2 separate regions of the Homo sapiens genome follow, and region 1 is linked to region 2. The links come from fine-mapping of genetic effects on gene expression. Tissue or cell type: whole blood. Region 2 holds a variant in brackets; the other region holds the start of a gene. All regions are shown on one strand. Distances are between the middles of the regions.

The links. PIP is the estimated chance that this variant, and not a neighbour inherited with it, causes the effect. A credible set is the group of variants that fine-mapping cannot tell apart.
Region 1: it holds the start of SEMA4G, and the variant in region 2 is the best candidate, but not a certain one, in a credible set for the expression of SEMA4G in whole blood (TOPMed, PIP 0.72).

The regions. Positions count from the first base shown.
Region 1 is chr10:100,959,196-100,975,264 of GRCh38, reverse strand. It overlaps SEMA4G (semaphorin 4G), which reads right to left and starts at 5,761. Exons shown (of 15, transcript NM_017893.4): 1 at 5,674-5,761; 2 at 2,229-2,736; 3 at 1,988-2,136; 4 at 1,656-1,718. The coding sequence starts at 2,352. It overlaps SLF2 (SMC5/6 complex localization factor 2), which reads right to left. Exons shown (of 20, transcript NM_018121.4): 19 at 15,769-15,837; 20 at 10,131-13,388. The coding sequence ends at 13,353. MIR608 (microRNA 608) reads right to left here and starts at 280; the gene lies at 181-280. RefSeq lists silencers at 5,745-5,804, 9,139-9,433.
Region 2 is chr10:100,918,306-100,934,374 of GRCh38, reverse strand. SLF2 (SMC5/6 complex localization factor 2) reads right to left here. Exons shown (of 20, transcript NM_018121.4): 4 at 15,934-15,991; 5 at 9,403-10,400; 6 at 8,356-8,426; 7 at 4,936-5,058; 8 at 4,378-4,545; 9 at 3,297-3,399. Among named protein-coding and RNA genes, the nearest start is that of SLF2, 13 kb to the right of the region's middle. The variant C/T (reference allele first, on the strand shown) is at 7,533.

The DNA.
Region 1 (16,069 bases), 41 kb before region 2:
CCCCAGACCTACTAAGTTTAGCATCTGCATTTATAATATACCTGGGTGATACATTAAAGTTAGAGCCTCTAAAGTATCAAATTCTGAGGGTGTTCACTGTCACAGAATAAAACCCAAACTCCCAGCTGGGCATCTGTGGCCTTCCATGACCTGGTTCCATCTGCCTCCCCAGCCCCATTTTCTACCTGTGCTGCACCAAGAGGCAGCCTTTGATGGAAGCTCTTGGAGATGCCTTTTTAAACGGAGCTGTCCCAACACCACCCCTGGCCCACCTTGGCCCAGTGGATCTTGGGAATTTTTTTTTAATTATTTTTTATTAGAGATAGAGTCTCATTATATTGTCCAGGCTGGCCTCGAACTCCTGGGCTCAAGTGATCCTCCTGCCTTGGCCTCCCAAAGTGTTGAGATTACAAGTGTGACCCACCATGCCCAGCCCAGGGCCGTTTATTTTGTAAAAGCTCTCCAGATGGAGCCATTACCTAGCCAGACATGGGACCCCTGGAGACACCCTATTCTTTAGCTGGAAAGGGCTGATGCTTCATTAATGCCTGTCCATGGAATACTGGGTATTTGACCTATTCCTTGACCAAAGACTCATTTTTCTCATCTGCAAAATGCAGGATAATACTATTTCATAGGGTTATTTTAGAATTAACTGAGATAATAGCTAAATCATCACTTGCTGTAGATAGTTGCTGACTTAACAATGGTTCAATTTATTATGATGGTTTTATTGGTAAGTAACCCATCGTAAGTAAGCATCTGTAGAGGTTACTTACTGTTTTTTGTTGGTTTGTTTTTTTGAGACAGGGTTTTGCTCTGTCATCCAGGCTGGAATGTGTGGCTTAATTATAGCTCACGCAGCCTCAACCTCCCAGGCCCAAGTGATACTCCCACTCAGCTTCCCAAGTAGCTGGGACTACAGGTGCACGCCAGCATACTTGGCTAATTTTTGTATTTTTTTTGTAGACAGATCTCGCTGTGTTGCCAAGGCTGATCTTGAACTCCTGGACTCAAGTTGTCCTCCTACCCTCAGCCTCCCAAAGTGTTGGGATTACAGATGTGAGCCACCGCGTTCAGCCTACTTATTGCCATTTTGATTATTTGGGATCCCAGAGGAGATGAAGATGCCACTGCGGGACAAACTAGTAGGCCACCAGATGGTTGAATTAGAAGTACTGTGCCCAGATGCCGGGGGCAATGGCTTACATCTGTAATCCCAGCACTTTGGGAGGCTAAGGTAGGGGGACTGCTTGAGGCCAGGAGTTCAAGACCAGCCTGGGCAACATAGCAAGACCCTGTTTCTACAAAAAATAAAACACTTAGCTGGGCGTGGCATGTGCCCGTGGTCCTAGCTACTCAGGAGGCTGAAGTGGAAGGATCCCCTGAGCCCAGGAGTTTAAGGCCACAGGGAGCTATGATCATGTCACTGTACTCCAACCTGGATGACAGAGTGAGATCCGACCTCAAAAAAAGAAAAAAAAAAAAATGCTGTGCCCATGGCTTGCCACTCTGGCAATACTTACAATGTTTACTGTGGTTGCTGAGATTGACTGGCAGGTCTGTACCTACCCATCTGTGTCCCCAACAATCCTGGCATCCCTGATTGAGGAAGAAGGGGAGGAAAGGAGCTGGGGACAGGGCAGACCACATACCTGGTTGTTTTTCCCTTTTTGATGACATTTGCTTTGCATCTCTGGGGAGGCTTCCCAGTGGATCTAGTGGAGGCAAAGGGAATAGGCTGATGCACTGACCCCAATACCTATTACTCATAGGACCAGGCAATAGGACCCCACAGAGTTGGGGAAATTGGGGTGGGGATCAATTTCAGGAGGAACACTGAATGCAAGGAACACCTGGGCTGGGAAGGGCAGTGCTGTCTGACCAGGGGGCTATGGAAGGCTGGCAGGGTTTTAAGGAAGTTGAGGTCCCAGGGAGCTGGATAAGCATAGAGACCCTCTGGGTGGTCCAGGTTCCAGGGCCTGACCTCTTTGTGAGCCCCATCTCCTATGTCGTTGGCACTGAGAGAGAACAGGGCACCTCGGGCTCCCACCAGCAGCCTTGCTGAGGCCTCCTCCAGCAGCAGTGTTGAGTAGTTCTGGGCTTGGCCCTTGAAGTGCCGGGTCCCAGAGAGCTCTGGGGAGAGCAGGAACAGTGAGCCCTAGTTCTGGGGTGCCTCCCCACCCCCAGCCCTGGCTTCTGCTGCCTTTTGAGGTTGAGGGTCTAACCTTCATAGGGTATGGTCATCCGAGGGGTGGCATCTAGTTCTCTAGACGGTCTCCGCAGTGAGGGTCCTGGGACTGCAGTTGCTGTGAGGATGCTGAGGAGGAGGGGCCAGAGCCTCCCCCACATCTTCCTGGGGAGGCCCAGACTAACAAGACCCCCAAAGGGAGCCAGAGTCACAGGTTGTGGGGGCGGGGAATGGGAAGCACAGTCACAGGGGTCAAAGTCCAAGGAAGTCACTTGGAAGGTCAGGGGTCATAAGGTCATAGGAGTCAAGGAATCATGGGGCCATGGGGGGTCCTGGAATCGGGGGGACATGGAGTCACAGGGTTGTGTGGCCATGGAATCCCCAGCTAAGAGGTCAGAAGGAGGGAGGGATCACATGCCTTTCTGCATCAAATGCAAACTCCATGGTGAGAGGGAGTTGTGAAGTTCTAGAGGGGTTGTAGGTTACTGATGGGGTCACCCTGCCCCCGACAGTAGAGCTAGTCCTGGTTTTCTGAGGTCCGTTTTCTGAAGAAAAAACGGGGAAAAAAAAGCCCTTTGATCTGTATGTGGGTGGAAGATGGATGGCGTTACCCAGACTTCAGGGGGCACTGAAAGAAGGAGGCCCAGCATCCACAGAACGCCCACGCCAGGATCGACTCACAATCATTCTGTCTATCGCTTTGCTCTGATGCAGGAGGCTGGGGTGGAACTTACCTTCCTTACAAGACCCTAGATGCCCACAACCCGAAACCCAAGGTCATGACCCTCTTCTGGCCAAGTCAGAAGCTCCACTAGGCCCTCAAGTCAAAGGAGCTGGGGTTCTTGGAGAGAATGCCTGCTTCTCCCAACAATGAGATGCAACTCGGTCAGCAGCTGCCCCTGCTGCCTGCGGGGGTGCCTTATGCAGGAGGGCCTAACCAGAGAGGTTTAATGGACCTTTGTTTATTTTGTCCTGCTTTCCCTTTGTTTTTTCTTTTCCCTGGCCTGAGAGCTCCCTCTGGAATTTCTCTTTAATTATAACTTCTTGGTATTCCTCTCCAAGGGGGTGCACATCTCTGCCCACGCCAGTCTGTATTGCACCCTCTGGCTAGGCATCCACACGTGTCCCTATCTGCAAGTAGGCATTCACAGGCATTGGGGTGGGTACCTAGGATCCCCCTGGTTGCACAGGTATAATGTCTGTGCAGAAGGCTGTAGTGTGCAAGGCCAGTTGAGACATAAGCAACGTGAAGAAGGTAAATGATGGGATCCCTGAGCCCTTGGCCCCTCCCGACACATCTTGGACCCTCCCTCAAGCCAACCAGTTGGGGATGGGATGGGGGTGGGTGGCAGGCCTCTCCCAACCCCTGTAACAGGCCTCCTAATCACCAAGGGGTTCCTTGAAGAGTTCCTGGGCTGGGTGAGGTGTGGAGAGACCTAATACATTCCATCTCATCAGCCACCCACAGGCAGGGCCAGAGGGTGCCACTGGTGCCTCCTCTCCCAGGTCAAATATTAACTATCTGGCCTTGGAAAGAGGGGAGGAATCAGGAACTGGCCAGAGGGATAACAGGAGCAATTATTCAAGAGGTAAAGGTCAGCACTGCAGGGGCAGAGCCCTGAGGGGTAGAGTCAAATATGAAAGGGAGAGAAGAGGATTCCCTGACCCTGAAAGGGCATAGGCTCCCTGTTTGGGATCTGGGACAGCAGGAAGCTTCAGGCAAGCCGGCCATGCCCCACCCCTCCCTGTGGAGGCACACCTGTTTACCTTTGGGACCTCCTATTTGCTCAGTGCAAAAGGCATGTGTGTGGGGAGCACTATGGCTAGGAGGAACATGCCCCAGGTTAGAGGAGCCACTCAGTGTGGTGCATGTCACACTTATAGTTTAAGAGTCACATGGGTGACTATTAGGAAGGTGATATACATGCACATGGGTGCACACACACACACACACACATGTTCACAAGGAGGACTGTGAACACGTGGATTCACAGGGGTCATTCACACATATACTCACAGGGAGTTTTGTGCACACATATGCTCATACAGAGGGCCACAGCCACAGGTAATCATACATATTCACATGTGACGTTGAATTTACATGCCCATCCATTCAGCAGGTCACACAGCCTCAGACATTGAGGAGAGATAAACCCACACATGTGGGTTTGTGTCAAGGACTGTGCACCTATTCAACAGGAGGGTCCTATACATACACATGTATGTGTAGGGACATGCACACAAACCCATTGATATAGTGGGCCAGGCAATCATGTTCACAGAAGGGTCAAGTACATGTGTGCTCACACGCAGTTCTTGAACACACAACTACATCCATGCAGAGACAAGCACACATGCATACAGGGGTCCAGTTTTTGCCATAGGCTTGGAGGCTGCCAGTGTCCACTGGGGTGAGATGCAGAGCAGAACCCTGCCTCTGTTCCTGAAAGTCCCAATTCTAAGGCCCAATTTCAAGTGTGTGTTTGTGTGTGGGGGTGGTGAGGGGGTTGTGTGTGTGTGTGTGTGTGGTGATGGGGGAGGCTTCTGACCTTGGATGGGCAGATGGGATGGGTGCATGAGTCAAGGCCGCTCTACAAGGGAGGGAATGGGAAAGTAACTCAGGCAGGAGGAGGCCCCTAGCTTCAGCAAAGATGGAATGGAACGCATAATTTAGTACTCCTCCACCCCTATGTATATTGCGGTTCTAAAGGTGGGAGACGGGCTGGAGCTCTCAGCCCCCACTTAACCTGTGGGAGGGGGCGGGGCTAAGTGGGCGGGGCGGAGCATATCACCCCTCCCTTCAGTGGCGAAGTACGGGTTTAAGGTCTCCAGTCCACGCCCCACACTCCACCCCAAGTTCCACAGTTCGGGTTCTTCCCCAGGGCCAGCCCCCTGAACTCTGATCACCTTTCCTCTATTAGATCTTGGGGTGGAGGGAACTGGGGAGGAGAGACCCTTCAAACAGGATCAATGGAGGATCAGCAGGCTCTCGACCTTCATCCCAGATGTCCACCTGCCTAGTGTAGGCGGTATTTCCCTCTGCCTAGTAGGATGGCGGTCTCTCCTGGCTTGAGAGAGCCCCTCCCCCGGGACCCCCTCCCTCCAACATCCTGGACAGTCCGCGGTCCTCTCCCTTCGTCAGGTCTAACCTCAGTCTCTACTGCTGCAGCTCGAGGACAAGCTCTCCTTCGATCCCGCCGGACGCCGGGAGACGTGACCCAGATCCTGGGGAACACTGTTCGCCACGCGGCCCCCTCCCCGCGCTGGTCCCCGACTCCGTGGTGGCCGGTTTGCACCCCGCGCAGCCCGAGGCCTGGCCCGCGCCCCTCTAGAGCCGTCATGCAGGACCGGGGGACTTGGTGGTGAGAAAGGCCTGGCCCAGCTTGGAGGGTAGAATGGACGTGGGGGAGGCCTTGCCCGACCCCCGGCCCGCAGCCCCAGGCTCACGCCAGGGCGCCGCCCGCACTCCTCGCCTTGCTCACCTTTGCGCTCGGATCCGGGGCCATAGAGACAGCGACGCGCGGCTCCGCGGCCCCACAGCACCAGCTGCGAGAGGAAGGGGCCGCGGCTGGAGGCGGGGCGGGGGGGGGGTGGTGGAGGCGGAGCCGGGGGTGGGGCGGGGTCCTGAAAGGCGGGGCCGACTGGGTGGGGTGAGGGGAAGGTCGCCACTCTCTTCTTTGCGCCCCCTACTCTAGCACAATAGAGGCGGTTTGAGGGCGAGGCTCACACACAGCCTTCGGCCATCGGGCGACCCCCCACCTCTAGGCGCTGCGGCCCTGAAATCGCCCCCTGGTGGTGGCCTCGCCACCCCGTGCACCCTCCACATGCTTATAGCCCGTCCTCTCCTCCGCTGTAACCCTAGGACCCCCCTGACTTGCCTACTGCTGGGGACGTGCAAACCTGTCCTGGCGTTGCGGGGTTGGGGGACCCTCTCGGAGGGCCTTCTGGCCTGTCCTCTAACCTGGACCTCACTCCCTGTGCTCCTGCCACCCGCTTCTGCTCTCGGCCTAGGGTGTGGAGGGAAGGCTACCCTAGGTGGCGACTGGACGTTAGGGAAGCTCTGAACACAAGGTAGGGGCTTGATTCCCAGCTTCAGGGGCTGTTCAGCTTGAGCTATGCGTGGGGGAGATGGGGTCAGGCCTGAAGGGGATAAAGTAACAGCCTGACCTGAAAGGCACACAGAAAATGCTTTTTCTGGATAAATAAGCCACAAGCGTTTGCACCTGTTCACTCACCAAATCTTAACCCTAACCTAGGCTCACCTCAGGGACTGGGTCATTCAAACACTTGCCTTCCCCTCCAGCTCATCTTGGGCACCATTCTTATCCAGAACTTAGAGTGCACCCTTCTAGGCAATCAAGTACCCTATCCTTCCCAGATTCAATCACCTTACCCAGCAGCAATCTAGGAAACCCCTCACAATCAACTCCCCAACTCCTTTAACTCAACTAGGATGGTCCTTCTGTGCAAACTTGGTTCCTGCCTCCTTTAATAGGTCACAGCCTATTAAAGTGAACTTAGCCCCTATAGTCCAAACAAAACCTGCATTCAGGCCCTGACCCAGCCTGGTCCTTCCTCCTCCATCCATGACAGTATTCATGTGGGCTCAAGAGATGGACCAAAATGATAAAGGCCACAGGAACATATGTGATTGACTCTTGCATGTGCCTAGGAGTCAGAACAGGATTCAAGTGGCACATTTAACTAAAGGAAACTTGGGAAAGGCTTCATCCTTCTTTCTGGATTCCCCAAAGCTCACAGTTTGGCACTGAATCATATACAATCTCGTAGTTTGGATGGCTGTGTGTGACTGCAGACTGCTAGACAGCAGGGCCCACATCACAGTTCCACCTCCCCCAACACTCTGCAAATAGGATGTGTGTGGCGGGGAGAGGGAAGGTAGCTGGGGAGAAACACAATAAAAAATGTACACACACTTTTACAAAGAATATCCTGCTTCATTTTTTATTTGTACCCTCATCCCATCCTGAGGAATTTATAGCCCCATTTTATGGATGGGGAAACAGGCTCTAAGACATTAAGTAACTTGCCTTGAAGTTCATTCTTGTGTTTATGGAGAGGACAATCAAGACTGGAAAAGTCTGAGAAGGAGGAAGCAGGGTAAGCCAGAAGGGGAAATACCATTGGCAAAGGTAGAAATGTTCAAGCTTATGCACAGGCTTGTGTTGGGGAACTAAGGAAGGGGCATGAAAGAGGGCAGTGAGTTTGATTTGATGAAATGGCTGGGGGGGGGGGGGGGGCGGGGAGGGGTTCCTAGTGGGAAATAAAAGGGAAAAGTCAGCTAGTAGTTTGAAAAAGACCACAGAAGAAAATCCTGAAAGAGATGATGGACTGAGTAAGGACGTCTGAGGTGGGAAGACCAGTCAAGGCAGGGCTAAGAAAGATAAATCTGCAGTCCTTATCAAAAAGTGGGTTGGTGGTAACAGTGGAGGCAGGGTAGGAAGACTGCTGGTCCTTCAGTAGCAGATAGGAGAGCAATTAAACTGTAGGGGCCCAGGGGGCTAAGAGGCACAGCTTCCCAAATGTTCACAGAACCTGCAGTGCTGACTTCAGATAGCTCTGGAGGTGGCGAGTAGGCCAGTGTGGTAGGCTCAGTATCACTCAACTTCACTTTATGAACCAAGCTTTGCTCCTCTGAGGTGCTGATGGCAAACTCAGACATTGTTAAATGAGCAAAATGTGTGATTTCAATGATCACTGGGCAGTTACTTCAGTACTTTTGATAGCAGACCACAATCCATTTCCTTCTGCTAGCCTCCCAGTAAAATCTCTAAACCTAATGAGAGTATCAGATGTAAAAGCAATTAATGGAGCTGCCCATAGGAAGCCCTTTTGATTGACAGTATGTCTCTCTGCAAATCCAGCTGGTAAAATAAGAACGGGGGAATACTGACAGACAGTGGAAAAGAAAACTGGAAATCAACTAAAGAAATTAACCCTAACCCAGCCATAAATCTGCATCCTGGGACACAGGCAGGTCATTCTTTGAACAGGCTGTCACTCATCCATAAGGTCACTACCCTGGCTGCTTCGCAGGGTGGCTGTGAGAGGATTCCATTTGGAAACCTTCTGGAGAACTTCACACACACAGAAAAGTATGAGTTTTGTTTTTGCTAGTCTATTTTCCCCAACTTTGCTGTAAGAAAGTGGCTGAGGGTAGTGCTGGCCGTCTTCAGCAGTGATTGTCAGCCACTTACACACCAGAGTTTAGCTCCACTTTGCACAGAACAGTTACTTACTGTAGCAGGGATCCTAGGTGAAGGGGGTGGGTATGAATTCCTGAAACTTGAGCAGGTTCCCTGAAGCAAGAGAACTCTGGCCTAGTCAAGTTGTCCTGCTTACTGTTCAATGTGGCAGCATTTCTGTTCCTGCTTTGCCATCTCCATCTCTGGTTTGCCCAGCACTTTCCCTTTAGGTGGTGTGGTCTTTATTTTGGCTATATATACAGCTGAGGTGCTTCTTCTGTAGGGGCTGTCACCAGTGCAACAATGCGGAAGTCTCACTATTCCACTGTGCCTCAGAAGCCTGTTTAGTTTTCCTCCCAGCCAGTCGTCTTGGAGTCAGACCCAAAGCTGGGCCTTCTGGTTTGCCCTCTCTTGACTCCAGCCTAGGGAATGGTTAGTAAGGGAAAGGGAGTGTCAGGACATTCCCACAAATGCTGGAAAACCACCACCCATCACCAATTTCTCAGCTTTAGCATGCTGGCTTTTAAAAAGTGAAAATTTTAATTAAAAAAAATCAGCAGAGATAGCTGGACAGAGAAGCTCCAGCTCCCGGTATCCAAAGAAATAGGGCACACTTACAACTATAATTTTTGGAGATATGGTTTGCTCAGATGTCAGTACACCCTGAGGTGTCTGCTTAAGATCAAATCTGTCATCAGAGAAACGCCTCGTTAGAGCAGCAAGCATTTGCTGAGTTCTTGCTATATGCCAGGCACTGTACTAGGCACTTTTCATGCATTAGCTCGCTTAGTCCTCACAAACCCTGAGGTAGACACCATTATTCAACAGATGAGGAAACAGTGAGTTTAAGTAATTTGGCAAAGATCAAAAGGCTAGTATGATGAATCTGGGATCTGAGGTCAGGCCTTGGGGCAAGGTCAAGGCCCTTAACTTGCATAAAGCTGTGCTGCCTGCCCTCTAGTAAGTACTTACGGCAATGTCTCTGCTTCTTCCTGGGCTGTCATCCCCTCATCCCTCCGCCCCACTGTCAGAGAAAAATGCTCCCATTTAGTCTCTTTCTAGCCAGCCTGTCAGAAGGCAGAAATACTGGCATGGTTTTGGAACTCAAGGCCTCTGACAATGCCAAGGCCTTCTATGAGCTCCAAAGTTCCTCCTATGAGGTTTCAACCTCTGCCTCCCAAGTTGGCATACCCAGATCTCTATCTGCTTGGCAGGTTGGAGGTGATCTCAAGCCCTGCTTCTGCATTGTACAGCTTCTTCTTTCTTGGTCCTGGGCTCAAGAACAAGGGAGTCAGGTTAAGGGTATTTGTTTCTAATTCTCTTTGCCCAAGAACAGAAAGTATTTTAACCTGGATACCAGGAGGTAAGATTCATGAGTTCTCTATGTTGTTCACCATCAAATCCTTACTGAATCCTAAAAAGAGTGCCTAGTATGTAGTTGAGACTCAATTGTTAGAATGAATGGTGGAATGAACATAGTGAATGAGGTAAGAATGAGATTACTGAATTCCTGATTGCAAAGTATACAGCAATTAACTGGGTTATATAAAAGTGAACTGTGTACAATGGTGGCTTTATGTTTTCCAGAAACAGGAGACATCAAGCTAAAAAACTGGACAATCCAAAGCAAGAAGAAATGTTTAAAAGCCAGGGGACTGGGGTGGGCTGAGGGAACAGGGCATTCCAGATAACTTAGCCTCCCCAACTCCCAAACAAATATTACCAAACACATGTTCAAACTGAGAAAAAGCAGTTTTAATAGCACACACACACACACATTCATAGGACTTTAACAAGATGTAGTATAAAATCTTTAAAAAAAAAAAAAAGGAAAGAAAAAAATCTGTATTTACTTCCTAAGAGCTGGTGGATTAACTGGCTGACAGGACTGCCCAGGAAAAACAAATGCACAGATAATGAGGTGCGCCGACACTGTTCATGAGTAAGGAATAACCATGGATCATGCTAACTGCTCTACGTGCCCCGCCGCCTGGACCCTACTGTTGCCTCCTTAGCGACAAACCACCACAGTCATCCCCTAATTCTCCAACTCAGTAGCTTGTTTAATGGGCTACCTCTTAAAATTTTCATTTTTAATTTAAAAATTACTCTTGGCTTAAAGACGCCACACATTATTACTGGCCAGTCCCCACCAATTATATTTGTTTTGATAAAAATAAAAATGCAAATACTCCAACTAAGCCTGGATGATAACACGCCATTTTGTATCTTTTACATTTGAGGAGATTTTTGTGAAGCTGAAAGCAAGCTACTATTTGCGCTTGAAAGCAGAAACAAAATGCAAACCTTCCAAAAGGTGACAAAGGCACCACTGCCATCAGGAGATAGAAAATGTACAAATGCTGTTACTTTACGGCTACATCAATGCATTTTGTGCATGGAGAGCCTCTTAATGTGATAAAACTAGTAGAATTATATTTTCAGTAACAAGAAAAGCAGTTAGAAAAGGCAAACAGTTACACACAAAAGCATAAACACTTACAAGTACCTTAATGTGCAGCTTGCAAGAAGGGTAATAAGTTTGCCATACATATCCATAAAATTAGACAAGGTGATTTTTGGCACAGTAATATTGCCAAACACACCACCACTCAGTGCAAGCTTCGTTTGCCAAGTCCCCAAAGTGGCCTGACATTCTCTGTGCAATGAACATTTCTCCCTCTCTACCATCCCATTCACCGGGCAATAGCAGCAGGAGGGAGACAAAGCATGGGGACTCAAGGGAGAAGTAAAATACTTGATTTGGAAGAAAAACCATGGGCTACTTGTGCTAAAAGAGAGTCACAAAGTTTTCATGAGAACCCAAATGCAAATACTGACTGGACTATGACCTGGAGTCTGAAGACCTCTACCAGAGTCATAAATACAAGGGCCTAAACTGAGGTCTGGCCATTTATTTTAGAGGGACCATGAAGTATTTTTTTTCTAAAGGAGAAATATAATTAAAAATAGAGATTTTTTTCTTATTGGAACTGTTAAATAAAAATGTATCAAAGTGGTTTTAAATTTGATGGACAGTTATCTGTTGAAACTGCAATACAAAAGGGTCATTAAAAAAAAACCTGAATAACCCACTTGTCCCCCCCATCAATGTACACAATTAGAAAATATTTACACACTGTAAATTACAAGCAATATAAGCAGTATTTTATACTTTGAGATTTTGTACACTTTACACAATGCAAAATGAGAAAAATATGAACACGTATAAAATTACACACAAATAATGTATCTACAAAGGATTAAATTACAGAACGAAAGCCCCCATCGTTGGGCAGATAGATGCCAGAGTTTCAAGCTTCTGTCAAATAGAACTCTTTGTATCTATCTCTTTAACCATAAGTGGCATTTTGTAACAATACCCTTGAGAGGTAGTATCAAGATAATAATATTCTTACCAGTAAACAACACAGAATAAAACTTTTGTTGGTCTGACTCTTGGAGCCTCAATCAGTTTAGGTTCTTGGAAACTGGATTTACTTAGTCTTCCCTATAAAATCTCTGACTGCCAATGCTTGATTGACATGAGCTCAAAAGTTACTGATGCTATTTTAAATGATAAATTTAGGACAAAATGCTTTTTACTCCTAAGCCTCAATTTAGAGGTAGAAAGTTATTTTATTTTCTTGCCTCTCAAACCGCAAACATCAAGTCCAGTTTCTGTTCCCCTCCATCATCTTTCCCCCCCACAACTGGAGACACTAGAGCACTCAGGAGAACAGGTCACTCAAGCCAATACTGAAAGAACAACAAAAAAAGTTGGCATTCTTTCAGGAAACAAACCCTCCTAAAAGGGACATCTCGTCAACAAAATAATTTTCTAGTTGGCTAGTAAGAGTTTGTTACTACCCCTGGGCTAAAAACAACGTGTGCACTTCCACTAACCCTCTACCATTTAAACCAAAGGATGGCTCTCCAGTGTTTAAGAATTTACAGCAGCTGTGGTTTTGAAGTGCAACAACTTCAAGATACAAGCGCACACACACACACACACACACACACACATACACAGACACAGTGTCCCAAAGAATTCAGGTGTCTGCCAAAATTATATACTCATGGAAACAAGGTTGTTGGAAACTTGTCCAGATCTTTAGGCTTTTACAATATAGACTTCTGTAATATGGTTACCAAGAGCCAGAATTCTAAGATATAGCCAAGATTCTAAGATTTAACCAGTATTTAAAATACATGCATTTAAAAGAAATCCAGAACAAACAGCATATGAATGTTCTGGCATCAAAACAGGGCCACTACTTTACAGCTTAACCTCTTCCTCTTAAGGGGATCTGACAACATGCCAAACTTTTGTTTCTCAACTGTTTGTTTAGATGTATTTTAAAAACAGATTTATAATCTTGAGTAATGAAGGAAAATGCATGGATTGAAACCTCCCTGTGGTTTATAAAAGTTACAGAAGAGATTTATGCTTTTTATTACTAAACTCAGTTTTAAGCATTCCCTTTGTGTCCGAAAATAACCAAGAGGGAAAATTAAACCCAACTGGAACTTGGTCTTGCTTTCCATGTCCAACTTCTCAAGTTAGTCCAAGCTCTTTTCTTATATATTTCCTGTGATTATCCAAGTGACAAAAATACTATCTAAAAAAGATAACTGGCTTATAATTTAACAAGAGGAGTTAACTGGGGCAGGTTAGACATATGACTATTATTCTGCTTCTACCCCTCCCCTCTTTTAATAAGACTCTGCACTTTTGAAAGGTCAGTTGCCTTAACAATTAAGCAGATCATATTTCATATCTGCTTCAGAAATGGCAATTTCTTCATTACCAGCTTCATACTAGATATTCAAGTGGCACATTTGCTGTACATTTTCTTGGCATTCATTGGATTCTGTAATAATCCTTTCTACTCCTCTATGAAAGGCTCTTATTGAATTTCTCTTGGTTCATATTTTTGCTGCTGCAACTCCTATTAAGAATCTGGTACCCAGAAGTCATGAAGCTGCCCCTAAAAAAGGGAAGGAGAAAAAAGAGGGTAAAGCAAAATTTAATCATATTATGAATTAATCCTTATAAAACTACTAATCATCAGACAATGGGCTTTGATAAGACAAGTAATAAAATCTTTATATTGACTTCTCTGAAAATTTATGGTAATCAGATTCAAATTTCACATTCAGTAGTCAAACAACAAAAAACAGTAAAAAATAAGTGCAGGATGTTTTTCTCACCACTGCACACATGGAGGGGCTTAGTTAAGCAGATTAAATAATGTTAAGCTGATTAGTATAGTTTTGCTATTAAATTATTTTCTGTTTTAATACCACATCAGTACATGACCAGCATTAAAAGAAAATCTATTAAGGTTAGAAACAAATACAAAAACAACAAAACATAAATATAAGATTTCTCAAAGACTTAAAATAGAGAGATTGCTTTATCTACTTAACATTCAGTGTTCCTATTATTTTGATATAAAATATAAGCAACTTCTAGGCCCTGGCTACTCAAAGTTTAGTCCCTGAAGCAGCAGCATTGGCATCAATCTGATAACTTGCTAGAACTACAGAATATCAGCCAGGCGCGGTGGCTCATGCCTGTAATCCCAGCACTCTGGCAGGCCGAGGCGGGCGGATCACGAGGTCAGGAGATCCAGACCATCCTGGCTAACACGGTGAAACCTGTCTCTACTAAAAAATACAAAAAAATTAGCCAGGTGTGGTGGCAGGCGCCTGTAATCCCAGCTACTGAGGAGGCTGAGGCAGGAGAATGGCGTGAACCCAGGAGGCAGAGCTTGCAGTGAGCCGAGATTGCACCACTGCACTCCAGGCTGGGTGACAGAGCAAGACTCCGTCTCAAAAAAAAAAAAAAAAAAAAAAAAAAAAAGAAGTACAGAATATCTCAGTTCTCACTCCAGACCTATGAGTCAGAATCCATATTTCACCAAGTTCCTAGTTGATTCCTATGTACATTAAAATTTGAGAAGCGTCATTTTAGACAATCCTATGCCAGTTACTCTGTAAACAAGCAGGCTGGCACACTTACTAGCAGGTGTTAAAAAAAATGTCCCTCTTAGGCAAAGACTCCTTAGATATAACATCAAAAAAAAGTGTCAAAAATATATACATAATAAATAAAAATAAAGGAAAGGCAACACACAGAATGGAAGAAAATATTTACAAATTATATCTCTAATAAGGGATTTGTATCCAGAACATACAACTCAATAATAAAAAGACAAATAACTATATTCAAAAATAGGCTTTTTGAAATGAAGTATGGGATGAAAAAAATGGGCAAAGGATCTGAATAGACATTTCTGCAAAAAAGCTATACAAATGACCAATAGGCATATGAGAAGATGTTTAACACCATTAATCATTAGGGAAATGCAAACTAAAACCACAATGAGATTCTACTTCCCTACTCCCTACTATGGCTTTAGTAAAAACAAGTGTTGGTGAGAATATGGAGAAATTAGAAACCTCAGACATTCTGGTGGGAATATAAAATGATGCAGTCACTTTGGAAAACAGTCTGGTAGTTTCTTAAAACACTTAACATAGAATTACCATATGGCCCAGCAATTTGACTTCCTTTTCAAATGTTTCATTTGAGAACACATATTCACATAAAAACTTGCATACAAATGTTCATGGAAATATTATTTGTAATAGCCAGAATGTGAAAACAATACAAATGTCTGATAAGTAGATAAATAAATGTGACATATCCATACAGTGGAAAATTATTTGGCAATAGAAGGGATGTACATGCTATAACATGGATTCACTTATTATTATATTAACTGAAAACAGCCAATTACAAAAGATTACATAGTATATCTCATTTACCGATGTCCAGAATAGGGAAATGTATAGGGACAGAAAGTAGATTAGTGTTTGCCTAGGATTTGGGAGGAGTCAGGAGGGGAACCAAGGTAGTAGAGGAAAGGGGAATGAATGACTGCTAATGGGTATGGGATTTCTTTTTGGGGTGATGAAAATGTTCTAAAATTAGACTATGGTGATGTTATTCACTCTGTCAATGTAATAAAAACCACTGTACACGTTAAGTGGGTAAAATCTATGGTATGTGAATTCTATCTCAATAGATCTGTCTTAAAAATGCTCTTAATTGAATAACCTCCATTTGATGCAATGCAATATTTTTAAATGGGCTCAACCACTTCTGGAAATAAATTAATGAATATAAAGCAAACGAAAACTAAAAAAATTACAAACCATGTATTATACTGGCGTTTTCAGTTTATCTTAAGATAACTAGAAGCAAGTGCACTGTTATACCCTATTTTATTTCAAACAGTATGAAGAGTGCCATTCAGCAAAACTATTAAGAATACATGAAATTGTATAACAAAATGACACCTGAGTAGGCCGACAGTTCTGGATTATTTCCTGCCATTTTCCATGTATCCTGGCGACCAAGTCTTTCACCTTAAAAATATCAAAAACAGGAAAAGGGATCAGATTAAAACATTCTCACCTACAATCAGCTTAACACTACACAAAATATCTGACAGCTGCAACAGGCCCACACTCAACAACTCAATTTGATTTCTGTCAACAAAGAGAAAATAAACTACTCATCTTTTGAAGGAGATTTCAAATCATAGAAATTAATAAGACTCCCTTTATCATCATAATCTAAACTATTGAATGCTTATGA
Region 2 (16,069 bases):
ACAGTGATTTCAGATAATTAAGTAAATGTGTAAAGGAGTATATACAGCAATCTAATGTCTATCAGTTGAGATTGGGTTAAATAAATCATGGTATAGCCTAACAAAGGAATACTATGAAGCCACTGAAAAGGATAACGTATCAACACTCTGAGATGAAATGCTCAATAATTTACTGCTATCTGAAATAAACAAGTTATAAGACACATTCACATGTTCTGTTTATGTTAAGTTACATGGCAATTTTTGAATGCAGAGAATACTCTAGAAAACACTGACCAAAATGTAACAGCTCCAGAAATTAGGACTTGGGAGTTCAGCCTTCTTATTTTAATTAAAAAAATTTAAACTGTTCACTCAAACAGATTCTGACAGAAACTTCTTTTTAAAAATATTTTAGGCTGGGTGCAGTGGCTCACGCCTGTAGTCCCAGAACTTTGGGAGGCCGAGGTGGGTGGATCACTTAAGGCCAGGAGTTCGAGGCCAGCCTGACCAACATGGTAAAACCCCATCTCTACTAAAAATAGAAAAATTAGCCAGGTGTGGTGGCACAGGCCTGTAATCCCAGCTACTTGAGAGGCTGAGCAGGAGAATTGCTTGAACCTAGGAGGCGGAGGTTGTAGTGAGCAGAGATCACGCCACTGCACTCCAGCCTGGGTGACCAAGTGAGACTCTCTCTCAAAAATAAACAAACAAACAAATAAATAAATAAATTTTAATCTCCTTTCCATTTTACTTGAACTTTTCATAATCAAACCTGAATTCCTTTTGAAAATTGTTAAAAAAAAAAAGTACTAACCTTTTTCTGGTCTACTACATTTAGACACTCATGATAAAATCACAAAAATGCAAGGATTTTAATTACATTTTAACATTAAACTTACAAAATACTGGTTAGGAGTATAGCATTAAAATGAATTGACATAATTTCTAAAAACTACTTACAAGTTGGTAAAGCCTCCCACGATGAAAACGGACTTGGAATCAAAAAAGGAGAAATGAGACAGTGTCTTACACAGGGAAAGTGTTTAATGAATGATTAGTCTGGTTTTCAGAAAATAAATATGAAATGTATTAAAAAACTGCTTAAATGAAGGTATGCTTGTATGTCATAATTAGGGTTTGAATGGCTATAACAATGGGCCCACATCAACAAGAGGCAAATTAACATAGATAAATGCAAAGTCTTACTTGGAGGTTTAAGAAATGATATACACAATTAGAGAATAATGAAGCCCTGGCATAACAGTAAAGGAAATTTTTTGTTTGTTTTTTTGATATGGGGTCTTTCTCTGTTCCCCAGGCTGGAGTACAGTGGCATGATTAGTTTTGAACTATAATAAGTAGAAATTTGTAGGTTTCTTCAGATGGGCAAGAGTCTCACTGAAAACTGCTGGTAAGACAGACCTTATCTGGAGCATGTGTCCACGTATCTTTAGTGGAGGCAGTGAGGGAACACTTTAGGAGTGACATTGACAAGCTACTCCTTTACTTGGATCTTACCTTAACCGCAAGACCTTCAACTACTTTACACTTTAAAAAAGCAAACTTTCTCTCTCACCCCGGTACTCTCTGTATCTACCTTACCCTACGTTTTCTTCATAGCACTTATCATCTGACACAATACATTTACAAATGTGCGCGCGCGCGCGCGCGCACACACACACACACACACACACACACACTTATTGTTTGTCTCCTCTACATTAGCATGTGGGCTTCATGAGATCAGAGACACTGATTTTTTCATTGCTGTTCTCTCCAGTGCCTGGCACAGCTGGCACTCAAAATGCCAACTATATAAAACAATGAACGAAAGTCTGTACTGGAATATCTCTCCAGTTCTCACCAAATACGAGATTTCTTGAAATGCTATCATAAAACCCAGAGTAGAAACTCCATGTTTTTCCCACTTTTCACTTTATATATAATAGCTGTAGTTCTCTGACACCATTGATACTTTTTTCCTTTTTGTTATAGGATTTCTGGGGCCAATACTCACATATTATAAAGGACTCTTTTATACTACGATTCCTTTTTCCTGAATGTATATTTTTCACACATTTAGGATTTTATTAAAGTGGAACACTCAGTAACCTGAGAATAATTTTTTTTTTTTTAAACAGATGTGGTCTTGCTATGTTGCCCAGGCTGATCTCAAACTCCTGGTCTCAAGTAATCCTCCTGCCTTGGTATCCCAAAGTGCTAGAATTACAGGCATGAGCCACTGCGAAGAATAACTTGTCATTCATAATCGTTCTCGTCTTTGAAAGAAGCATAATTCCAATCTAACTGAGTAGTTACTATAGTACTTGTTGATACAGAAGCTTTTATACTGGAAAAAGCCCCATCCATGCCCTCCCATATAAATGTCTTTTTTTTTTTTGAGACAGAGTCTCACTCTGTCCCCCAGGCTGCAGTACAATGGAGCAATCTTGGCTCACTGTAAACTCCACCTCCTGGGTTCAAGCAATTCTCCAGCCTCAGCCTCCTGAGTAGCTGGGATTACAAGTGCCCACCACCACACCTGGCTAATTTTTGTATTTTTAGTAGAGACAGGGTTTCACCATGTTGGCTAGGCTGATCTCCAGCTCCTGACCTCATGATCCACCTGCCTCGGCCTCCCAAAGTGCTGGGATTGCAGGCATGAGCCACCACTCCTGGCTGATACAAATGTCAAGAGTAAGAAACTTCTACATTTATCTGCATGAAGGTCCGAAGTATCTAGAGTAACACCAGAACTCCATACATAAGCATCAATGATACCACTGATATTTAAAAAGTTACCAATTGAGTTAACTTTCTGGAATTATCATATCTTAAATTTAAGATAATTATTTAAGTGGATTTAAGCGTTAAATATGAATGGGGAAAAGAAACACTTGGTTGGATTTGCATCCAAAAAAAAAACCATATATACGAATGGGGAAATATTAGCATACAATTAAAATTCTGAAAATGTATATAGGTACCACCATAAACATGAAAAAAGGTTAAAAAGAAATTTAGGTATGTAAGCATTAGAAGATCCCTTCTAAAACTAACTATAATAGTGATTTATCACTGTGGTGAAGGGTTCAGGCACAACTAACACTGACTGTCCTGTACAACTATCTACATTATCCCTTTCTTCATAATCTCTTTATATTGACTCTTTTTGCTACATTCTAAGCCACTGACATCATGGATGTGCTACATTAATTTTTTCTGCAGTAATGTGCAAATAAAATTATGTTTAAAAGCTTTTGACTTAGAAATATAGTAGGAGGCAACTATAACCCTCTAAACATTCCTCTTACCCGAAACAGCCACTTTAACACAGGGACAGGACACTGGACATAGTGATAAGCAGACGTAAGGAAACCTTGTGTTGTCAAAAAAATCTGATCTGTTTTTCCCGATCTGAAAAAATAAAGTAAAATCAACATGGCTATTAACTTCATGGCAAAATACTTCTACTATCACCACCAACACATCTGACATAATCAGAGAAATGAGCAAGCAAACTGTCTTCAGTCCATAGAGGTGGACTCTATACCAATATGGATGAGTTACTCATAAAATAAATTTAATTGATGGCCTAAAGCTGATCCAATCTGTTGGCTAGGCTCCACATTTAACTGGCAGACAAAGCTACATTTGCTGGTAGTGTTGAGAAAGAGCCTATCAAGTCTCAGACTGGGGAAGTACTTTAAAAAATTGGCAGCAGAACTGATGTGATCTCTCTAGAGCTGAGATATCATGCACTGAGAGAAATTAGATCAGTTTGGGCACTGTGGTGGAGATTACTAGTTGCACATCCCAGCATCTATTTTTGCCTTTCTTCTTGGTAACTGAACCCTGATCTGTAGCTGCAAACACTGGCTGCCTGAAATAAACATCACTCTCTGGCTTCCCTTGTGGCCAAGTGTGGTCATATTGACTAAGTTTTCTATTCAACTAACTTAGTGTGTGGGAATGCTGTGTGGAATTTCTGGGAATTTGAACTAAAGGCTGGAGCTAGAACAGCACCCGAAGCTAGGTGCTAAGAATGGTGGAGAAGAAAGATTATATGGTAAAACTGGCACTCCAGCCCTGGACTTCCTGCTTTTATACTTCTTTCAAATATACTTCTTGTTTAAACCACTATTATTTTGACAATCACTGTTATTATACACTGATCTTAATCATAATTAATAAAGGCATGAGATGTGTCAAACAACTATCCTACACTGCTTCCTATAATTAAAGAAGAAAACATAAAGATCAATAGTAATAAGAGGATTAGGAAACTTAATAGGTCATAATAGAAATTAACCTTTTAGAAGATTACGTGAGTCAGAAGTGTTTTAGAGTAATTTTTTATACATATAAAAGTAAAATGTCTATTTTTCTACTTACTTAAGAATAAGTTTTTCTACAGCACTTTGTCCAATAAAACCAGAGTCTCTTAAATCCAAGGTATACTGATTGAAAATTTTTCCAGAATTGAGGAAATTAAATATTTCTTCACCTGGATGATGATCAGGAATAGCATCAATTGTAACTGAAAATTTCTTTAGAAATTCCCTGAAACATAAAAAAAGTCAATCAATACCAAATTGTTACACTACATATAGTTTTGTATTTAAAAGCTGGGTGCAAAGAAAACCATTTTTTAAGCCAATGTTAATCCCAAATTAGAAGACTAGCATGAGAAAAGTATGCTTTGCTTCTTCCACTTTTTGTAGTTGTTAGTCAAAAGCCACTAAATGTGTCTATGTGAAAAGAAACAATAACCAGGAGAAAAGATAAAAGATGAAACCTGGCCCTAACATTTGCCTTTCAAACCCATTACAGACAGAAACCTATCATAAATTATTCACTAACAGCCATCAATGGCCCATTTATTTTACAAAAACAAAACTAAAAAATGTAAAAACTTTAATAAGGTAAAATACATTATGAAAAATGCTATACTTGTGCTCTTCTAAGAGGCCATCCTCATCATCTGTACTGTCTTCTTCTCCAATTCTGATTGGGGATTTAATGCCTCGGCCTTGCCTTATGTCTTCTTGTAGTTGCTTCTGCAGTTCATCTAGCCTGAGAATTGGAAAGAATGTTATAACAGTTTACTCTAAAAATATTTTTAAAAAGTCTTTAGTTTATATCTAAAAGCAGCACAAAGAAAACCCTTATTAAGTACCCTGGTATATAACAAATTTTGTTATACTATCGGTCAAATTATGTCTCCCAAATACATCACGACGTACAATTTTCATGAAAACAGATATATTTCAGGTGCTAGGCTTTTACCCAGTTACCAGTGTGGCATTAGAATAGTGTTCCACTGCATAAAAGACTTGAGGATTTCCATAAAGCTAGAACTTCAAGAATGATCTGTCCAAACCACTCACAGAATGGGAAAGGAAAAATGGCAAAGAATAAACATCACTAATTTGATTATCCTCTCTACTCTTTAAAGTTCACTGGGTTCTAGATGCCCAACAACCTGATAAGTTAACTAGGCTTTCTAGCAGCAGTAGTTGTCACTGTCATCATCATCACAACACCTAACATTTACCGAGCACTTAATATGTGACAGGCACTGCACTAAGGGCTTTATATATTAACTCTTTTAACCCTTACAACAACTCCATGTAGTAGTTTATAACGCATTTTATAGATAAGAAAACCAACATTAGAAAAGCAAAGTAACTTGCAAGAGCTTGTAATGCAAGGATGTGGGATTCATAGCGAGAGAGTCTAGCTCTAGAGTCCTTGCTTATACTGCCTCTCCAAGATTAAGTTATTTTAAACAAGGTCCTTACCCCAGCCACAAACAGTGGATAAGTACAGCTGAGGAGTAAATAACTAGTAAATGTACTGTTCTATCATTATAGAAAAGGGTCAATCATTCAATTAAACTAGTACTACTGTCTTTCATTTGTGAAGTGCTCAATTTTAAAGGAGGAACTTCAGATTTCATATCACAGATCACAAGAATTCATGAAATATTTAAAGAATTTTAAATACAGACAAGTTCTCTAATTAAATTCAGAAAGGGGGAAGCTTTTGAACTACTAATCATCTGAAAAATTCCTAAAGTTAGCTACTTGGTTATCAAGTTTGAGATATGTAGCACATACCAACTTCCATGTAATCAAGTCAGCTGAGCTGTTAGTGAAGTTCTCCAGGCTAGGTTCAAGGACACTCCTTGAATTAACAAGGAATATATTTTTCCCCTCTTATTAGCAAAACCTGTCCATAATTAGTCACATAAATTTCATTAAGATCATTATGATCCTCAACTTTTCTCTCTCTCTCTCTCTCTCTCTCTGTCTCTCTCTCGTGTGTGTGTGTGTGTGTGTGTGGGGGGGGGGGGGGGTGTTCATCATAATTCTAAACTTTTTCCTCAAAAGAGTAACTTGATAGAAATATTTCAGAAAATTCTACCTGTGTGAACCGCCCCACCCACCAAACAAGCCAATTAAAAACAGGCAAAGAATCTGAAAAGACATTTCTCCATTTGTATAACAAATGGCCAATAAGCACATGAAAATATGTTAACATCATTAGTCATTAGGGAAGGCAAACCAAACAATAAGGAGATACCACTTTACTGTTAGGATGGCTATTATCAAAACAAACAAAAAACAAAGATAAAATAATGTGTTGGCAAAGATGTGGAGAAACTGGAACCCTTATTAATTGTTGGTGCAAATGTGCAATGGTGCAGCCATTGTGGAAAACAGTGTGGCGGTTCCTCAAAAAATTAAACGGAATTACCATATAATCCAGTAAGTCCACTTACGTGTATATGCCCAACAGAATCTAAAGGAGAGACTTGAAGAGATATTTGTATACCCATGTTCATAGCAGCATTATTCACAGTAGCCAAAAAGTGGAAGCAATCCAAAGGTCCACTGACAGATGACTAAAGAAAATGTGTTATATACATAATACAATGGAATAATCAGCTTTATAAAGAACGGAAATTCTGACACATGCTACTATATGAATGAACTCTGAAGACACTGCCCTGAATGAAATAAACAGTCGTAAAAGGACAAATATAATACCACTTACATGAGATAACTAAAACACAGTCAATTTCATAGAGACAAAGTAGAAGGGTAGTTGCTGAGGGTGGGAGGAAGAGGAAAATGGGGAGTTATTGTTTAAAGGGTATGGAGTTTCAGTTTGGAAAGATGAAAAAGTTCTGTAGCTAGATGGTGATAATGGTTGCACAACATATAAATTTACTTAATGCCACTGAACTGTACATGTAAAAATGGTTAAAATGGTAAATTTTATATGTATTTTCCATTAAAAAAACACAAAAAATTCTACCCATGCTTTCGATCTAGAATTTCAGCTATCAGATACTAGTTGTAATAAACAGAAAGGAATTTATATTATTAGTTAGTGCAGTATACTATAAAAACCTGGATCTTTTGATCCAGTCTATGAACAAGAGAACCCATCTTATTCCCTTTTTTTTTTTTTTGAGATGGAGTCTTGCTCTGTTGCCCAGGCTAGAGTGCAGTGGCGCAATCTCGGCTCACTGCCACCTC[C/T]GACTTCCGGGTTCACGCCATTCTCCTGCCTCAGCCTCCCCAGGAGCTGGGACTACAAGCGCCCGCCACGACACCCAGCTAATTTTTTTTTTTATTTTTTAGTAGAGATGGGGTTTCACCATGTTAGCCAGCATGGTCTCGATCTCCTGACCTCATGATCCACCTGCCTCGGCCTCCCAAAGTGCTGGGATTACAGGCGTGAGCCACTGCGCCTGGCCCCCCACTTTTTTTTTTTTTGAGACGGGGTCTTATTCTGTCACCCAGATTGGAGTGCAGTGGCTCAATCACAGCTCACTACAGCCTTGACCTCCTTGGGCTCAGGTGATCCTCCCAACCTCAGCCTGTTGAGTAGCTGGGACCATAGGTATGTGGCACCATGACTGGCTAATTTTTGTATTTTTTGTAGAGATGGGGTTTCACCATGTTGCCCAGGCTAGTCTCAAACTCCTGGGCTCAAGAGATTTGCCTGCTTTGGCCTCCTAAAGTACTGGATTACAGGCATGAGCCATCACACCTGGCCTCTTTTTTTCATTTGAGACTGGGTCTCACTCTGCCACCCAGGCTGCAGTGAAGTGGCGCCATCACGACTCACCGCAGCCTTGAACTCCTGGGCTCAAGTAATCTTGCCTGGGTCTCCCAAAGTGTTGTGATTACAGGCATGAGCCACTGCGTCCGGCCAACATATCTTATTCTAACACAGTTGACAACAGAGTCCAAAATGCACGCTAATTTCTCATGATTTTTTAAAAAAGGTAAATTAAAAGTAAGCCACACAAACAAGCAAAATGTTAAATTTAGCAAATTAATCTTTATGCTAACAAACCTTTGTGTGTCTTCCATTTCCTTCACTAGACGTTCTAAGGTATTTGTGTAAGTTCCAGGATGAACATGTCCCTAAAACAAGAACATTTAGAAATACTTTACCACATGTCTTAGTAGAAGAACTGGGATGTTTTAAGTAATTAAGGGTACGAAAGACTATTTTCTATTTCAATAATCTGGGCCAGGATAACACCTTTCTTAAAGGATAATTTTCACCATCATGCTTTAAATCTAGTATTTTGCACTGCAGACAATTTGATTTTACTACCTATTAGGAAAGGCAGTACTTATAAAACCCTGCTAACTTTGAGATGTGACTGCAAACACTCAAGGACTCTGTGGCTACCCTGTCTTTACTTTTAAATTCTATTTTAGTAGAATCAAACTACTAATTTTTAGGTGTTACCATGGAATATTAACACCTTCCCCACCAAATTTTACAGACATCTTAGAATTTAATTCAGCTTATTCCCAAGATAGAATGAAGCACTTTATAAATAAAATTGCACACCACAATCAACAACATTTCTACACTCTACCTTCATTTACAGATGTGGTCTCCAAAGCAGGGGGTGTGCAAGGTGATCCATTGGGGTGCAGGAAGAAAATAATAGAACTTCTATTTATATGGAACTTCTATAGAGACTCCAGTAGAACTTAGTCTATAGTAACTTCTACGTCACTTCTACAGGAAAATACTTATTTTTCTCTTCTTCTTCCTTTTAAATTCTGTTTTTGCATATGCTTTAGAAAGTACACAGTATTACAGTGGTACATATATATAATCTAAAGGTATACATATATGTTGGGGTACATGCTCAAAAATTGTTAAGTGTGTGTGATCAAAAGAGTTTGGAGACCACTGACTTACAGTAATAAAACTAAAGATATGGAAACTCATTTACCAAACAAGAATTATTCCATTTTCAGTACAAATATGAGTTATAATAAATACTAAATTTTAAAGTAAGTTCCGATAATCCACCCCTTTCACTAATTAATCATCTTTCCCTCTTCAAGTAAAGATAAACGTCACAGAACTACTTACTGTATAGTCTGATGACTGAGATCTAAGCCCCTTGGAAAGAGCAGGAGGCTTTCCTGTAGCTGCAGGAGTCTGATTGAAGTTCAAAGCCATTATTTCTTCCAGTGACTTTAATGTTTCCTCTTCCTCATCACTGTCTAGGTTGTAACCTAAACTTTCTTCATCACTATCAAAATCACCCCTTAGTTTTCTTTTCAGTGCACTGCTACCTGCATTGGAATTTCCTGAACTCTCTCCTTCTGAAGGGGCTTTATCTGAAGGTGCTGCAGGGCTTGGGATACATGGCACAACTTCCAAAGCAGCAGGGGGAGACTTTGTAGGAGTGCCATATTCTGAGCGCAAAGGTCCCCCAGAAATTTTCCCTGAAGATACATTAGAATCGGCCTTATTAGTCTTTGCTTTGTGTTCCTTGTGTTTGGTGGATTCTGTAGAATGCCCAGAACATTCTTTAGATGAGGAACGCTCTTTATCTTTTTTAGAAACTGGAAGAGCACAATTTTTAGCATTTAATGGTACTAGAGAGGAACCAGCACTTGGAACACGGGAAAGTAAAGGTAGTTTTGTCTCCTTCTCCTTTGTCGTGGAGCTAGCGGTTTTATTTTTCTGAAGGTTGCTAGCTTTTTTAATTGCAGACTTTTCCTGAGATAAAGGTAAGTGGGGTTTCTGCATCTTAGTCTCCTTGGTACCTGCCACTTGGATTTGGTCACTATTCCTGGTAGAATGGTGGCCAGAATTGCCAGAATTTGAAGGTGCCAAGCCTGCAGAAGAGCCATCAGTTTCATCACTCGGTTCCTTGGATATATCTTCTAAGCGCAACACATCACCAGGTGTCTTCAGTGCAATATGTTTTATAAATTTTTCTTTCTGATGTGGTCCATCAGGACGCTTCTCAAGGAAGGACTCTCTTGCTTTTGGTATCATAGATTCTCTTGTGCTTTTCAGATCTGAGTCCACAGAGTTCCTTTTTCTTTTTTCAGGGAATTTATTCTGCTTAGAGCCTGCTAAAATTTAATTTTTGTTAGATTAGTGAAAAATATACTTTCCAACTTTAGTAAAGTTTATTCAGTGTCTAGAACACCCTAATGAAAGGTTTAAAATTCTAAGTATTAAGGCTGAGATTAGTCACCATATATGGAATGCAGAAAAAGAGTTACTTATCAACTGGATAAATACTGGTGTCCAAGAAATTTAAAGCTAATGACAAATGCTCATTTTCATTCCAAAGCTATGAAAAGTTTACCACCTTAACAGAATTAAAGATGCCACTCCCTAAAACAAACAACTGCATATTTGTACCAAGTTAAGGATGCCATAGGTACTTCTGGAAATTCTTTTAGACCTAGGACTACCTGGTTGCAGAAATGTAACACTTCTACATTTAAATGTATAGTACCTTAAAACACGTATAGGATAAACACTTGAAGGCAGATAAATGTTAATTTCTCATTAAAAAAAAAAAAATCACGCTGTGTCCCAATGCAGTATGACTGGTGTACTTACAAAAGGTGTCTTTGTCTTTGGAGACAAAGACAGACATGCACAGAGGGAATACAAGGTGAAAATACACAAGGAAAAGATGCTATGTGACTGGAGTGATGCAGCTGTAAGTCAAGAAATGCCAAAGATTGCAGGCAAACACCAGAAGCTAGACGAGGTAAGGAAGTATTCTCCCCTAGAGTTGCCAGAGACATTACGGCCCTATTGATATCCTGATTTCAAACTTCTAGCTTCCAGAACTGTGAAACAATAATTCCTGTTGTTTTAAGCCACCCTGGTTTTGGCACTTTGTTATGGCAGCCCTAGGAAACTAATATAAGCTATATTTATTATAGCCCCATCCAGAAGTACTTTAATAACCACATACATTTGAATGAACCAGTTTTTAAAAATTCATATTGTGGGCTGAGTGCGGTGGGTCACACCTGTAATCCCAGCATTTTGGGAGGCCGGAGTGGGCAGATCACTTGAGGTCAGGAGTTTGAGACCAGCCTGGCCAACATGGTGAAACCCTGTCTCTACTGAAAATACAAAAATTAGCCAGGCATGGTGGTGCGTGCCTGTACTCCCAGCTACTTGGGAGGCCAAGACAGGAGAATCGCTTGAACCTGGGAGGTGGTGGTTGCACTGAGCCAAGACGGCACCACTGCACGCCAGTCTGGGCAACAGAGCAAGACTCCGTTTCAAAAAAAAAAAAAAAAATTCACTTTAACCTGGTGCAGTGGTGTGTGCCTATATAGTCCCAGCTACTCAGGAGGCTGAGGTGGGAAGATAACTTGAGCCCAGGAGTTCAAGACCAGCCTAGGTACCAAAGCAAGACTTCAACTCAAAAAAACAAAACAACAACAAAAAAAAACACAAAAAATTCACTATTTGTGCAATCAGTATTCCCCAAACCAGATTTCCCTAAATCAAATTTTCTGCACATGGACAGATGTCTCCATTCCCCAAGAGTTGCTTTAAAAACCTAAAATGGCTGGGCACAGTGGCTCATGCCTGTAATACCACAACTTTGGGAGGCCAAGGTGGGAGTTCGTGAGCTCAGGTGAAACCCTGCCTCTGCGAAAAGTACAACCCCGTCAATCCCTTCTCTAGTTAGAAAATTTCTTATCTTTTGGCCATGTCTAGTGGCTCATGCCTGTAATCCCAGCACTTTGGGAGGATCACTTGGGCTCAGGAGTTTGAGACCAGCCTAGGCAACATGGTGAAATAGTCTCTACAAAAAATACAAAAATTAGCCGGGTGCAGTGGCATGTGCCTGTAGTCCCACCTACTTGGAGGCTCAGGTGGGAGGACTGCTTGAGCCCCGTGAGGCTACAGTGAGCTGTAATTGTGCCATTGCACTCCAGCCTGGGCACCAGAGTAAGACCTTGAATCAAAATGAGTAAATAAAATAAAATAAACCCGCCAAAACCAAACTTGAGAGGCAATTATTATTTGGATAGCTTGATCAATATATAATCTGAAAAATTCAATTTATAAAAATTAAATTAACTAATTAACAAATGCCCTTATCTCTGCTCTTTTACAGATATCTCCCATTACCTGAGGAAATCATTCCATCCTATTCAGTTTTCTGGGGTTAAATGTCTTACAAAAAGGACAGGGGTAACAGGATGAGAAATTAAATGACTAAACAAAAGAGAAGATTTGGCTCATTATCTTACTTTTAAGTATGGGATTACAAAAAATGAGCTACAGAGCTGCCAGTTTGAGTTTTGTTCCATTTTTCTAGAGAAGTCAGATAATTTAAATATAGCTAGAAATGAGGAGAAATTCCTGCTTTGCTCAGGCATTATTCAGGGTTGATCCAGGAGGAGACAAACACTGTTTGTGGAAGATGTTTAGGATAAGTCAGCTTATTAAGGGGTTTCATCATCTAGAATTAGAGAAAAGTGAATTGGTACTGCAGGTAGGATCCCCTTTAGCAAGCTCTTCAGGTCAGGTGATTAATTGCAAAATGTTCATAATTCTTTTTGTATCCTTTGTCAGCCTGTAGAGAATATTTGTTTTACAGTTTTTCAAATATTTCAAATATACTAATACATAAAATATTCATATAAGAGAGAGATTGAGTTTGTAAAAAGAAAAAAAGGAGGCTGGGCATGGTGGCTCACGCCCGTAATCCCAGCACTTTGGGAGGCTGAGGCAGGAGGATTGCTTCAGCCCAGGAGTTCAGTGCTGCAAGTGAGCTACAATCTCACCACTGCACTCCAGCCTAGGAGACAGTGAGACTCCATCTCAAGAAAAAGGAAAAATCCAAAGGCCATTAATAGGTGATTGGTTATTAATCAGTTACGAAATGTACTAGCAATGGATTAAATTTCCCCTCACAATTCAGCCAAAAGACAGGGCTCTAGAAGACCAAAGGGCTAAATGCCTAGTCTAACATTACTTCTGAAATCCCTGAACTTGTATGTGATTAATGATTGCGTGATTATGTACATTACCATGACAATTGATTAAGTGTATTAACAAGATGAACAAGACATATCATTTGGATTTTTATTTTTATTTATTTATTTTTTTCGAGATTGAGTCCTGCTCTGACACCCAGGCTGGAGTGCAGTGGCACCATCTCAGCTCACTGCAACCTCCACCTTCCAGGTTCAAGCAATTTTCCTGCCTTGGCCTCCTGAGTAGCTGGGATTACAGGCTTGGGCACCATGCCCAGCTAATTTTTGTAATTTTAGTAGAGACGAGGTCTCACCATGTTGGCCAGGCTGGTCTCGAACTCCTGACCTCAGGTGATCCATCTGCCTTGGCCTCCCAAAGTGCTGGGATTACAGGCATGAACCACTGCGCCTGGCTTAGATTTTTAATAATTTTGCTATCAGACACAATAAGCATTCTTCATGCTATCTAGATTGAAATATCCCCTTGTCCTTTACATGTTGAAATTCTGTTGATGTTAGTCAATTGAAGTATAAATGTATATTTATTAAGAGTATAATGCTATAATTATTAGTGATTATGAAACACATGCAAAAATATTGGTAATAAAAATATAAGTGACGGCAACCATCATAAGTCAGCCTCTGAAAATATGTAGAAAGCATCTTTTCCAAGCAGTACTCAAAAACTTTGCTAGGTGGGATTATATAAATGAAACTACTTTAGCCACCATGAATGAAATTTGCAAATCCAGGAAATGAAAAGATTTTTTCAAATCTTAAGTCAGAGAAAAAAGAAAAGGAATAATGTGGTAGCCACACCACCAGCAGCAGCCCCTTATATAAAATAATATTTTGTTCTTCCATTAACTTTGGTGCAAGGTGATCATGTATTTAGTATTAAAAATGTGCAATACAGTGAGTGCAGAAGCAATCTCCTGGCTGAGAAATTCCTGTTCTTCTACAATAATGTCAAAATTCACTAAAATTTGGTCATAAAATCAGCAACATTATAAAAATTAAATAAACAAAAAACACACAAAACTTTAGATTTATTCCTGTATCCTAGAAGTTCCTTCTATAATGGTAAAATATGGTTTCAGCCTTGGCTGAAGATTGATTTTACCAGTTGAGAGTTCTTGGTCAAAATGCAATGCACCTCTAAAATATAAATAAAATGAAGTAGATGAAACCTGAAGGAGGAATTAGAACTGACTCTCTGTACTTTGGCTTTTCCATCTCTAAAAGTAAACCACTATCATATAAAGTTATGAGGTTCAAACGAATTAGAAGCACATAAAATGGCATAGCACACAGTAAGTACTCAATGAAAGCCAGCTATTATTATCGTGTCCAATGTATCTTACTGAATGTGGGAATTTGTTTTTCAAAATGTATAGTCACATCAGGAAAAAAATCGGATACACTAGACTATTAACTGTTGTTAGTTGTGGAGACCTTTCATTTCTTGTTGCAAACTTCTGCAGTGTTTGCCTTTTTAATCTTCTATTTTCTAGTTTTAAAAAAAGATAAAATGTACTGAATTAACAGATTTGTTATTTTATATTTTTTTCAATCAATAAATGCTAAAAGTACAAACTAATGTCATGTAGATATCCTTGAAATTTAATATTAAAAAGGGATCCTTGGATTTGAAATATTAGAGAACACTGCTTTTTATCATGGTAACAGTCTCAACCCTATACAAAGCATCTTCAACATAATACCAACAACTCAGTCTACAATTCCAAGATAATAAGATTATGTTTCCTGGGGGCCCGGTGCAGTGGCTCATGCCTGTAATCCCAGCACTTTGGGAGGCCGAGGTGGGCAGATCACGAGGTCAGGAGATCGAGACCATCCTGGCTAACGTGGTGAAACCCCGTCTCCACTAAAAATACAAAAAATTAGTCGGGCATGGTGGTGGGCGCCTGTAGTCCCAGATATTTGGGAGGCTGAGGCAGGAGAATGGTGTGAACCCGGGAGGCGGAGCTTGCAATGAGCCAAATTACACCACTGCACTCCAGCCTGGGCGACAGAGCGAGACTCTGTCTCAAAAAAAAAAAAAAAAAAAAAAAAAAAAAGATTATGTTTCCTGATGTAGCCAAGGATTCAGAAGGAAACACTGAATACCAGTATGAGAAACATACTGTTAGGAACTCCTGAAGAGGGCAGAGATTCAAGACAGATTACAAATTATATGCACTAGGTCAGGTGTGGTGGCTCATGAGCTCAGGAGTTTGAGACCAGCCTGGGCAACGTGGCGAAACCTCGTCTCTACAAAAATACAAGAAATTAACCAGGCATAGTTGCCCACATCTGTAGTCCCAGCTACTCAGGAAGCTGAGGTGGGAGAATCATTCGAGGCCAGGAGGTCAAGGCTTGCAGTTGAGTCGTGATCATGCCACTGCATCCCAGCCTGGGTGACAGAGTAAGACCCTGTCTCAAAAACAAACCCAAATTATAAGTACTAGATTCAGGGACTAGTCTTTTTTAATATGATCTTACCAAACTCTTAATTAATATGAGACACTTAATTCATCCCCAAGAAGGGAACTGCATATTTAAACAAATTTATTTTAAAAAGCAGTGCCATTAAAATGGAAATTTATTTAGAAATCCATAAATTTAATTTTGATTCTACCTGAAGTAGGTTCCCATGAATCAGAAGAGGATCTTTTTCTTGAGAGATGTCCATTTTCCTATGAGCACAATGAGATAAAATTAATTAAGTGTTGGGGACAGTAAAGAATGTGAAGGCATTCTTCCTAACATTTAAA